Homo sapiens: one gene and its partners. The protein of the gene in region 1 interacts with the protein of each later gene in a pairwise test. Each region holds a gene or a part of one and is shown in the gene's direction. Other genes may lie near its edges. The genes, in order: RBPMS, SPMIP6 and MLLT10.

Region 1 (3,655 bases):
ACCCTTTCCCTGCCCACCCATTGTATCAGCAACTTGCTCTTAAGCACATTTAAAAACCTTGGCGGTGGACTCCAGTAAACAGAACACACACATACAACATAGATATATACACGTAATGACGAGAGGAAAAATGTGTTTCGTTGTAATTTCTGGTAGCCATTGAACTGACATGGAAAAATGAGTCCAATCATCATTAAGGGAAAATAGTTTATTTCACAGATCATGAGGGTGGTTTGGGCTTTCTCCACATTGTAGAACCCAAGTTTGTTTTTTTCTGTGTTTCTAGTTTCGAAACGAATTCCTTCTATCAATCAGTGTATTTTAGCTTCTTTTGAGAGTTTCTAATGCTTACCCTGAAATAATTGTGCTGAAATGCCTCTTTGGTTCTAATTGTGTAGAATGAACAGTTCAGGATCTAGGAGTATTTTTGCAGCTTTTTAGGGTTGGAAGTTTTTGAGAACTTTGGCAGAACATGTATTAATACTTCTACTTTGGATAGCATTGAAAACTTTGAGGAAAAATAATTTAGGATTTGGCTAGCCAGTTGTGTAAGAGAGATGATACATTTAACTTTCCGATTTTTAATGTATTATTACATTAAATACATGTGTAATACACGTACAATGTATTATACATGTGTGTTCCCTAAGCAAGTTGTCCTGTAAAGACTAACCAGTTGTCAAAATCTCACTGAGATTTTTAAGGTTTGTTTATATATGTTTAGAGTATCATGTCATTTCTTATATTTTACAATTGATAAAATGATTCCTAGAATTTCTCTAATTGTGCAATCAAACTTTATAAAAATTGATATATAATAGATCCATAATTATTTGTCTTACCTAATCAGTTATAATTGATGAGTTTAAAGTATTTTCAAATATATCAAGACCTTTTCTGTCTTATAGCTTATAACTTATAGCTATAGCTATAAGCTAACTTATAACTTATAGCTATAGCTATAAGCTAACTTATAACTTATAGCTATAGCTATAAGCTAACTTATAACTTATAGCTATAGCTATAAGCTAACTTATAACTTATAGCTATAGCTATAAGCTAACTTATAACTTATAGCTATAGCTATAAGCTAACTTATAACTTATAGCTATAGCTATAAGCTAACTTATAACTTATAGCTATAGCTATAAAGCTAACTTATAGCTTGTAACTTATTTGTTGGTCACTGAATTTTCAAAATAGAAATTTAGATTAAATATGTGATTTGGTTTTTATTTCTACTTTTATCCATGTCATTGAGTACTTTTCAGGCTGATTGTAAAACATCTTTAAAAGGCCTTTTATTATATTGAAGCACTGGTGTTAATTTCTCCTTAAATTGCTTTGAATTGACTTGTACTTATAATAAAACTAAAAAAGCAAAAAACGTGGAAGTGTTGGAATATTGATCAAAAAGATGTGCAGAAATCATACAGTCAGTTCTTCTGAGGTTAATACAAACCTTTACTTTGCATTCCTTCTTTTAAAGTGCTAATTTTGCCAAAATATTGGGGTTGTAAAGAAAATTATTTCTTAAAATTGCTGCAGAGAGGGTAATGTCAGTTTGATGTGGCAACCTCAAATTTTCATTGAGCATTAAAGTCAATCTACATTGTGACTTCAGGAAAGTACAGAATGGTTTTATACAATTTAACCAAGATTGGGGATCTCTGTTATTCCAAGTTCAATCCAATGCAATAAACATATATTTCAGTTGTAGAATAGGATTTGGTGACAACTGATGCTCCATGACCCCTGTCAATATGGCATGCACTTTTGAGTTATTTTTCCAGTAGCGGTTTAAACATTTCCCTGATAAACCCTTGTGTGCATCTGCAGTCTTCTTCATTCCCAGTGGCATTAGTTTTCAGATGGGTAGTTTGGAAGGGGTGGAAGTTCTCTTCTGGAGATGGTTTCACATGATTTTCGTAGGTTCATGTTAATTTTTGCTTTAAGGATAAAAGTGTTCAGTGCTGGTGACAAGGCAATAAAGTGGGTACTTTTGTGCAGAGCAGTGGTGATGTAAATTAGTGTAGCTTTTCAGAAAGGAGTGACACTATCAAAATGTGTTCAGGCCCTTTGATTTAGTACCTTTATTTTTAGAAATTTACCCTAAGAAAACGGTATCATAAAGATTTATATATAGGAATGATTTTTGCAGTGACTTATGACAGTGACAATTCAGAGGCACTCTATCTAACATGGGAAACTGCTAACTAAATCATTGTATAATTCTGGAAGGGGAATATTGTGCAACCACTAAAGGCTCCGTTTTTAAAGAGAAAAATACATGGATTATAAAATATGTATTATATATAAATTCATATTTATTATGTATTATACATATGTGGTTATATACTATTCTCTGTGTTCTGGAGGTTAGAAACCTGAAGTCAAGGTGTTGGCAGGGCCACCGTGCTCTCTAAAGGCTGGAGAGGAGAACCTGTCCTTACCTCTTTGAGCTTCAGTGGCTCCAGACATTCTGAAGACTATATTTTTATTCTCATGTTGTAATATTAAATGAAAAGAACTGATTTTAAAGTTTTATGCTATGTGATGCCAGTTCTCAAATAAATGTATATTCATTCATAAAACCAAACATTAATTGTATCTAATTGGTGGATTACAGATCATTGCTATTTACTTTCTGATGCCTTTCGGTGTTTAAGTTTTCGAAAATGACCATGTGAACAAAAAGAATTAAATGTCTTTTTGCTTTGAGGGTTTCCTTGAATCGTGATATTCACAAAACCGAGGTTGGTCACATTTAGTTTTGCTCACAAGCCTAGCGGTGAGAATCAGGTCTGCCTTGTTCCTCAGACATAGTCTTTCTTAGTACTATTAGTATTTCTCTTACTCATTCCCTTATCTTGATTGTGTTAGTGATCTTCAGCTGCTCTCCTGTTCTGATGCTCTTCTGGAGTCCATCCTTACACCATACTGCTGGGCCCTCCAATGCCCCGAATCCTTCAGTGCTACTTGGTACTCCACAAAGTCAAGTGCGCACATGGCGTTCGGGATTGCCCTCACCTACCTGTATACTGTGATCCCTTTGCTAAGAGGAAGCCTAGGTCTTCCTCTTCTGTTCTCTTGATCTAGTCTGAGCTGCTTTTAAGCCAGGATTCAAGTTTTTCAGCCTACATTTTTGCAAGATCCCCCTCACCTGAATGTCCCATCCCATAGAGATGATTTTTCATTAGAATTTCAGTAAAAGTTACTTTCTGTTATGTCCATTTAACTCCTGGTTATTATTTTTTTCAGCTATTTATTTTGTATGGGTCTATGCCATTTTACAGTATTCCCAATGTTCAACACCTACCCCAGCACCAGGTAAATCTCCTCTGCACACATCCACACTTACATATATACACGTATATAATTCTTTGTAAATATATATGAAATAGCCTTATTGGTGAGGTTGGTGATTATGAGTTTGTACAGGTAATAAGAAGCAGCCACTCGTTTAATATTGAGGATCCCTTCTGTGCTCTGCACTGGGGAATTAGAAAAGGTGTGGATGGATCGGCTGGAAAATTACTTCCATCCCTTTGTCATTAGGAACCTCCATTTGCGAGCACAGGTGAGCCTGCCTGGTCCATCAAATAGCCACTGCTGGAAAATTACTTCCATCCCTTTGTCATTAGGAACCTCCATT
Region 2 (3,755 bases), on another chromosome or scaffold:
GCTGCTTCTGCTATTGCTGGTTTGGGGGAGGGGACTGGAAAGCTGAGACTGAAAATCAAGAGGGAAGAGGTGAGGAAGGCCCACCCCTGGGGCTGGGCAGTGTAGACCTGCCACCGTGTGAAGAAAAATGAAAGCACAGATAGCCTAAGACTGCACAGGCCTGTGCCCACATACCTTATAGCACAGGCCCAGGTGGATCATCTCATGCTAACACCCCACATGTGCTGGTGGATCCACTCCCATGGATCCACTCACATGCTGCAGGCATGCAGTAGACTCACCCACAGCCCACTCTCTGGACACCAATCCTGGGAGGTGGGAGCTGGAATGGGGAGCAATGAGAGGAGGGAGTGAGACTGTTGGCTTAGGAAGGGTGGTACCTCTCCCTGCATCATACCCAGGAACTGCCAGCTCCAAAATATTGGGGTACAGCTCACCACCCCCCACTCCGCCAACCCATTCCTACCTCCTCTAGTGCAGGGACCCAAGTTAGATGATGAGAAAATGCCAAACAAAGGGAGGCAAGGACAGAGAAGGTACCTGCAGGACCCACAAGGCCCATACTGGCCCCCATCTGAACCCACCTCTCCCACCCAGATCAACATCCCCCCAACCCCTGTGCCCCCATCATCTGGACCCCAGAGCCAGCCCTCCCACTACCACCACCACCACCCCGGGGCTCCTTGGCTCACCTTTCTAGAACATGGGTACCTCCTCTTTTTGGGGGCTCATTTAGACTGCTGCCTTTGCTGCTGACTTGCAGTGTGACTCGGGCCCATTGTTCAATCTCTGTGGCCCTGAGACACCAGGGAAAATCTCCCCCCCCACAGGACATACTAGTTCCCTGGCAGGCAAGGGCTTCCAACTGAGGCAGTGCATGTGTGGCAGAGAGAGGCAGGAAGCTGGCAGTGGCAGCTTCTGTGTCTAGGGAGGGGTGTGGCTCCCTCCTTCCCTGTCTGGGAGGTTGGAGGGAAGAATCTAGGCCTTAGCTTGCCCTCCTGCCACCCTTCCCCTTGTAGATACTGCCTTAACACTCCCTCCTCTCTCAGCTGTGGCTGCCACCCAGCCAGGTTTCTCCGTGCTCACTAATTTATTTCCAGGAAGGTGTGTGGAAGACATGAGCCGTGTATAATATTTTTTTTAACATTTTCATTGCAGTATTGACCATCATCCTTGGTTGTGTATCGTGTAACACAAATAATGATATTAAAAGCATCAAACAAGCCAGCCTCAGCTCCCTCCCTGGGGTGTGGGCAAGGGGCAGATGGGCTGGGAAGCAGACAGAACTGGTCCTCTGGGCACACATGTTACTCCACCTCCACCTGTGGGTTCCCAGGCATGCCACTGACCTGCTGCATGACCCTGGGTGAGTCACAACCCCTCCGAACCTCTGTTTCTCTTCAACAGTGAGAAACCTGACCTAGAAGATCTCCAGAGGCCCTCTGAACTCTTAGAAATTGGGCTCTTTTGATAGGCTTGAGGCAGGAGGGGGTCAGGAGCAGGGAGGGAATTAGACCTCCTCACCTTCCCAGGGATGGGGCTGAGCCAGGTGATATCACAATGGGCAGTGCCCATCCTGGAGGGGGCATCAGTGTGGGGTGGGAGCAGGAAGGCTGTTGGGGAAGGAAGCTGAGAGATCCTCTGCAGGAGGGGATTATAGCAGCTAAGGGCACCTGCCAGGCTGGAGGTGTGGCCTGTCTAGGGGAAGGGTGGTCACTGATGTCCAGCAGGAGCCCTTGACAGGTAGAGCCCACCACGGCATCTCCAAGACCACACCATGTTCCTGTTCTCCCGTAAGACCAGGACCCCTATCAGTACCTACAGTGACTCCTACAGGGCTCCCACCTCCATCAAGGAGGTCTATAAGGACCCACCCCTGTGTGCCTGGGAAGCCAACAAGTTTCTGACTCCGGTAAGTGGGAGATTGGTGGGGAGGGGCAGGCCAGAGTGTATGGCCAGTCTGGATGCCTGGCAATGTATGTTTGTAATGATTTGTAGCTTTGTGTATGTGTGTGTTTTATTCATTTACCTAGGCACAGAATTTACAATGGTATGTAAAACAGCACAAAATCCTGCCTTCATGGAATTACATTAGGGTAGGAGGTAGGAACAGGCAGATAATAAGAAATAAACATGAGTTTTATAAATTCTTCAAAAATACTGTAAAGGAAATAAACAGAGTAGTGGAAGTGGAAATGGAAAGGGAGGGCTACTTAGGTCATGGAAAACCCTCTCTCAAGGTGACAATAAACTGAGACTGGAAAGATGAGATAGAACTAGCCACATGAAGACCTGAAAGAATAGAAGAGCTGAAAGTTCCAGACAAGTGATCACAAAGTGCAAAGGCCCTGAGGCTGCCTGTGGAATAGGCCGGAAACTGTCCTATATGCATGCCTTTATCTATATGTATCACAGTTTACTTGTGTCTGTGCTTGAAGATTGGTGGCCAGGTGGGAGGAAATCTGTGAGTCTAACTGTGACTCTGCCTAAGAGAATTTATCTGTGTGTACCATCCAACTTTGCTGAGTATCTTCATCTGTAGGCAACCCAGGATACAAAAGGGAAGGGCCAGCCCTTGCCTTTGAGGAGCTCACAGCAAACAAGTGAACAAAGTAGAGTTGCCCGATGTGGAACATGCACCAGCAGAGGTGGAGAGCCAGAAAGGGGAGAGCGCTGCCCAACCTGAAGGGCAGACCTACTGAGGGATCCAGGAGGAGGAGGCTTCCAGCAGAAGACAGTCAGGAGAAAAGGCAGCCTGTGGGCAGGGACCTACCAGAAACTGAAACTGTTAGAGCAGGAGAGTTTAGTCCTTGGGTGAGAGAGGAGTCTGCAGACCAAGAAGGGCCTCTCTGGCTATGTTGTGGAGCGTGGACATAAGGCTCCAGGTTTTTGAACCTGGGAGGGAGAGTCATGGTTCAATTGTGAGTTAGGCCACTCTGGCCACAGTGTCAGGGAATTGCAGGGGCTGGGGTTGAGGGCAGGAAGGCCAGCGAGGGGTGAACAGATGAGGAAGGAGGATGTAGGTGGGAGATAAGGAGATTGTCACAATGAAAAAAGGAATTCGTTGAATAGGAGAGAATTTTTAAAATAATTTATTTTGTCTAACTCCAAAATAAATATACGCTGAATGTAGAAAATGCAGATAACTCAGAGAAGCACAAAGAAAAAAGGTCTAAAATCCTACTACCTAAAATTACCATTGTTAATATATTATCGTATGCCCTTTCAGGAAGCAAATATTGTTTATTATAAAAATAAATAAAATTTATTACAAAATGGTGTATTTAAGGAATCTTATTGAAAATTTAGGTACTTTATAAAATTTTGCTAGTATAATCATTCTTATACATGTATCTTTGTACACATTTCCAATTATTCCCTTAGGATAAATTACTAGACATGAAATTGTTAGGAGAAAAGATATACACATTTTTAAAACTTTTGCTATATACCTCAAATTGCCATAATAAGTAAGGGTTGTAACAATTTACATTTCCACAAGCAAAATATGAGAGTGCCTGACTCCATACTCAATAGAAGGGAATTTTAAAAAGTAGATGAACAGATTTTGGTCACCATATGGATGGTAAGGTGAGAGATTAGGGTGACCCTTGAGTTTTTGGCTGTGGCAGCTGGAGGAATGCTAATGCTATCAACTGAGGTTTGGAATAACAGATTAGAGATTTGGAGTTCATTTGAGAACAAAAATATTTGAGGATATCCAGGAAAAGATGTTTGGCAAGTAGTTAGATATA
Region 3 (3,655 bases), on another chromosome or scaffold:
AGAAAAGGAACTATAGGTTGTTTTTGAAGGGCATAAAGAATCCTGTTAAGTGATCAACTTGAATTTAACTTTCTTAGTCCATAATATAATGGTAAAATTTACTTAAATGTCTAATGATCTCGTTATTGATTTAAAGCGATGGTATTCAATATAGATTTTTTTTTCTTATTTAAATCAGTCTTAGGAATAGCAAGACTAGATATTTAAGTGGTTTTGATACGGGCTTCAGCATAAGCTTTTTAATAAGCCTTTAATCTTACACATAATGTAATTTAATAGGGTAAATAGGTTTCTTTTTGTCTTTTATTATTCTAGCTCCTACTACTGATTCCTTGAACAGCAGTAAGAGCCCTCATATAGGAAACAGCTTTTTACCTGATAATTCTCTTCCTGTATTAAATCAGGTAATTTTTGTATGGTTATTTTCATCTATGTTGATTTACTTGTGAATAATAGTATATTAAATGGTTTAAAATTATTTTAAACAGTTTTGCAGTGTTCTTTAAACTTAGTTTCTCTTCTTTCTTACGCTGGGACTTAATGTCCAGTGGACTTAGTTTCTCTTCTTTCTTACGCTAGGACTTAACCTCCAGTGGACAAAGTACCAGCAGCTCATCAGCTCTTTCTACCCCACCTCCTGCTGGGCAGAGTCCGGCTCAACAAGGCTCAGGAGTGAGTGGAGTTCAGCAGGTCAATGGCGTGACAGTGGGGGCACTAGCTAGTGGAATGCAGCCTGTAACTTCCACCATTCCTGCCGTGTCTGCAGTGGGTGGAATAATTGGAGCTTTGCCAGGTAACCAACTGGCAATTAATGGCATTGTAGGAGCTTTAAATGGGGTTATGCAGACTCCTGTCACAATGTCCCAGAACCCTACCCCTCTCACCCACACAACCGTACCACCTAATGCAACACATCCAATGCCAGCTACACTGACTAACAGGTAAGAAACTTAAGTATGTTTTGGGTTTTTTAGTATAACAGAGTACCGGTGTTGTCTATGCCTTAGATTGGGGCTTTCAATGTGTTCCTTTGTAGATACACCTTAAGAAGTCTGCCAAAAATTTTAAGTATATTATACAGAGTACATTTATTTTTGAAACTTAAGTAATTTAGATTAAAATTAAGTTACTTTTAGTAACAGCATTATGTTCTGTGCTGAAAATTAGTCTTAATCTGTGATGTCTGTTTTTAAATACTAGTTTTTCTTATTTCTTTGTATACTGTATCATAAATTCTGAAGAAAGATATCGTAGTGGAGATAACATGAATATTAGTTTCCTAAAATTTATGTAATATTTTTAATGTTCTAATCAAAGATTTTGATATAGGATAAAGGTCATTTATCTGAATTCCCAGGAAGTGAGACTCACTGGTTTCATTGTACTGGAACTGCATTTGAATGTTTGTTCAAAACTAGGGGACTAAAGCTATGTTGTTATTAAGCATACTTTTGGGGGAATAAATACTTTTAAATGGATTTGCAGTGGGTACTAGAAAGCTATTTCCTGTAGCTCTCTTCCTTGGTGTTTAGTTTTACCATTGGGACCATTAGAAAAGGATAGGTCAAATCAGTGGTATGTTTGGATTCTTTGTTTCAAATATGTGTTTACTTAGTGTGAGTTAAATTATCCTTGAATAATTAAAGATAAATTATTACATACGCTTGTTAGAAACACATGTAAATTTCTATTCCATAAAATGAGTTAGGGCCTATTTGTTTTATAATAAAAACATTTCTTGACAATGTGAATTCTTGTTTAGCTGTACACATGGATGTATATAAACATACATATATATAGAAATTGTACATAACTGTTTTCAGAGTGTTTGGATTCAGAATTGTACTTAAGTTATTAAACATCAAATTGAAAAGTTGTCTTTCATTTTTAGACTTCTAAAAATGCATTAGAGGTGTGTAGTAAAAAGTAAGAATTGTAATCATTTTTCAGTGCCTCAGGACTAGGATTACTTTCTGACCAGCAACGACAAATACTTATTCATCAACAGCAGTTTCAGCAGTTGTTAAATTCTCAACAGCTCACACCAGTAAGTTCTTTCTTTTGATAATATCTTATTAGGAGCATGTGTTCTAAGCTGTAATATTCACTGTGGGTACAGATTTCTCCTTTGTGAAATAACATTATTGAATGCATAATCAAAAAAGTTTTTCTTGCCATGTGGTACAGGCTGTGATACCTGCAGTGATGTCACATTCATTCCTGAACTTAAAAGTGACAGGGCACGTGGCATGGTGCTGCCATAGGCTCTGGTAACACAGTGCTGAGATGTGGTGCGTGTTTTCCCGGAGCTTCATTTTGATACGGGAGATGGATGGACACGATGCACGCTTTTTGGTTGTGATAAATACTGAGAAGAACAAAGAAGTGGAATAAGTGGGGAAGAGCATAGGGAACCGAGGACCATTTTAGATAGGATGGCCCCGCCTCTGCAAGGGGGGTGACTTTTGAGCACAGACCGATGTGAGAGTTCAGGGAGTGTGCCTTTGTGACTTGAGGGAACGCAGAGAGAAAGCACGTTGGAGGTAAAGGGGCAGCTGCTGTCAAAGGTCTGGACGTACTTGTGTTCGGAAGAGAAGTCAGCAGCCATGTGGTCAGAGGGTGGGAGAGGTCAGAGCCAAGGGGGTGGTCTTAGATGATCGCATACAGCCTTTCTTGGCTGTGGCAAGAAATTTGGATTTTATCTTAAGTATGAATGGAAAGCCACTGGCGAGTTTTTAAAAATCTATTACGGAGGATTTCAAGTGTACCAAAAGTAGAGTGGAGAGCACCCTGAAGACCTATGTACGCCTCATTCCATTCTCTCACCCAGTGCTAATAATCTTAGTTTTGTTTATCTCATTTCATTCTCCATTTTTTTCAGGATTAAGAATTGGAAGGTTTTGAACAGAATAGTGAAATAATGATTTACATTTTAAAGGATTAGTTTTGCTGCTATATGGAGAATAGTCTGTGTGTGTTATAGGGTGTGGGGGAGTGAAGACAGAGGCAAAAGTGGAAAAAGGGAGTGATCCAGGCAGGAGACGTAGGTGTTAAAATAGTATGGGCTACGTATTGAAAACTGCCTGGAATTGTGGTATATATATGTATATTTTTGAGAGGGAGTTTTGCTCTGTCGCCCAGGCTGGAGTGCAGTGGCACAATCTGGGCTCCTTGCAACCTCCATCTCCTGGGCTCAAGTGATCCTCCTGCCTCAGCCTCCCGAGTAGCTGGGACTACAGGCATGTCCCACCATGCCTGGCTAATTTTGTATTTTTTGTAGAGACAGGGTTTCACCATGTTGCCCAGGCTGGTCTTGAACTCCTGACCTCAAGTGATCTGCCCTTAGCCTTCCAAAGTGCTGGAATTACAGGTGTGAGCCACTGTGCCCAGCCAAGATGTTTTGAAGACAGAACCAACAAGACTTGTTTGCTGGACATACAAGAGAAAGAAGAATTCTGAATGGTTGGTTAGTGACTTTTACTGAGATGTGGGAGAACAGAACCCAACCAATTTTGGAGAGAAAAATAGGTGTCATGGACACACTAAGCTTGAAATCTCTTTAGATGTACAAGTCAAATGGAGATAAGGCAGTTGCACAGTAGGTGTCTGGAGTCCCAGGCAGAGATGCAGTTAGTTAGAAATCTGGGGTTAGTGC

Evidence for each region.
Region 2: the proteins of RBPMS (region 1) and SPMIP6 interact in binary tests that used the Homo sapiens proteins (3 or more experiments, as listed by UniProt).
Region 3: the proteins of RBPMS (region 1) and MLLT10 interact in binary tests that used the Homo sapiens proteins (3 or more experiments, as listed by UniProt).

What each region holds. Positions count from the first base shown.
Region 1 is NC_000008.11:30,387,491-30,391,145, forward strand, and holds part of RBPMS (RNA-binding protein with multiple splicing), read left to right. Parts: intron 1-3,655.
Region 2 is NC_000009.12:34,395,656-34,399,410, reverse strand, and holds the start of SPMIP6 (sperm microtubule inner protein 6), read left to right. Parts: upstream 1-1,600; 5' UTR 1,601-1,777; coding exon 1,778-1,912; intron 1,913-3,076; exon of another isoform or gene 3,077-3,755. UniProt on the Homo sapiens protein: May participate in intramanchette transport and midpiece formation of the sperm tail. May play a potential role in somatic cell proliferation.
Region 3 is NC_000010.11:21,733,189-21,736,843, forward strand, and holds part of MLLT10 (protein AF-10), read left to right. Parts: intron 1-315; coding exon 316-404; intron 405-579; coding exon 580-941; intron 942-1,950; coding exon 1,951-2,047; intron 2,048-3,655. UniProt on the Homo sapiens protein: Probably involved in transcriptional regulation. In vitro or as fusion protein with KMT2A/MLL1 has transactivation activity. Binds to cruciform DNA.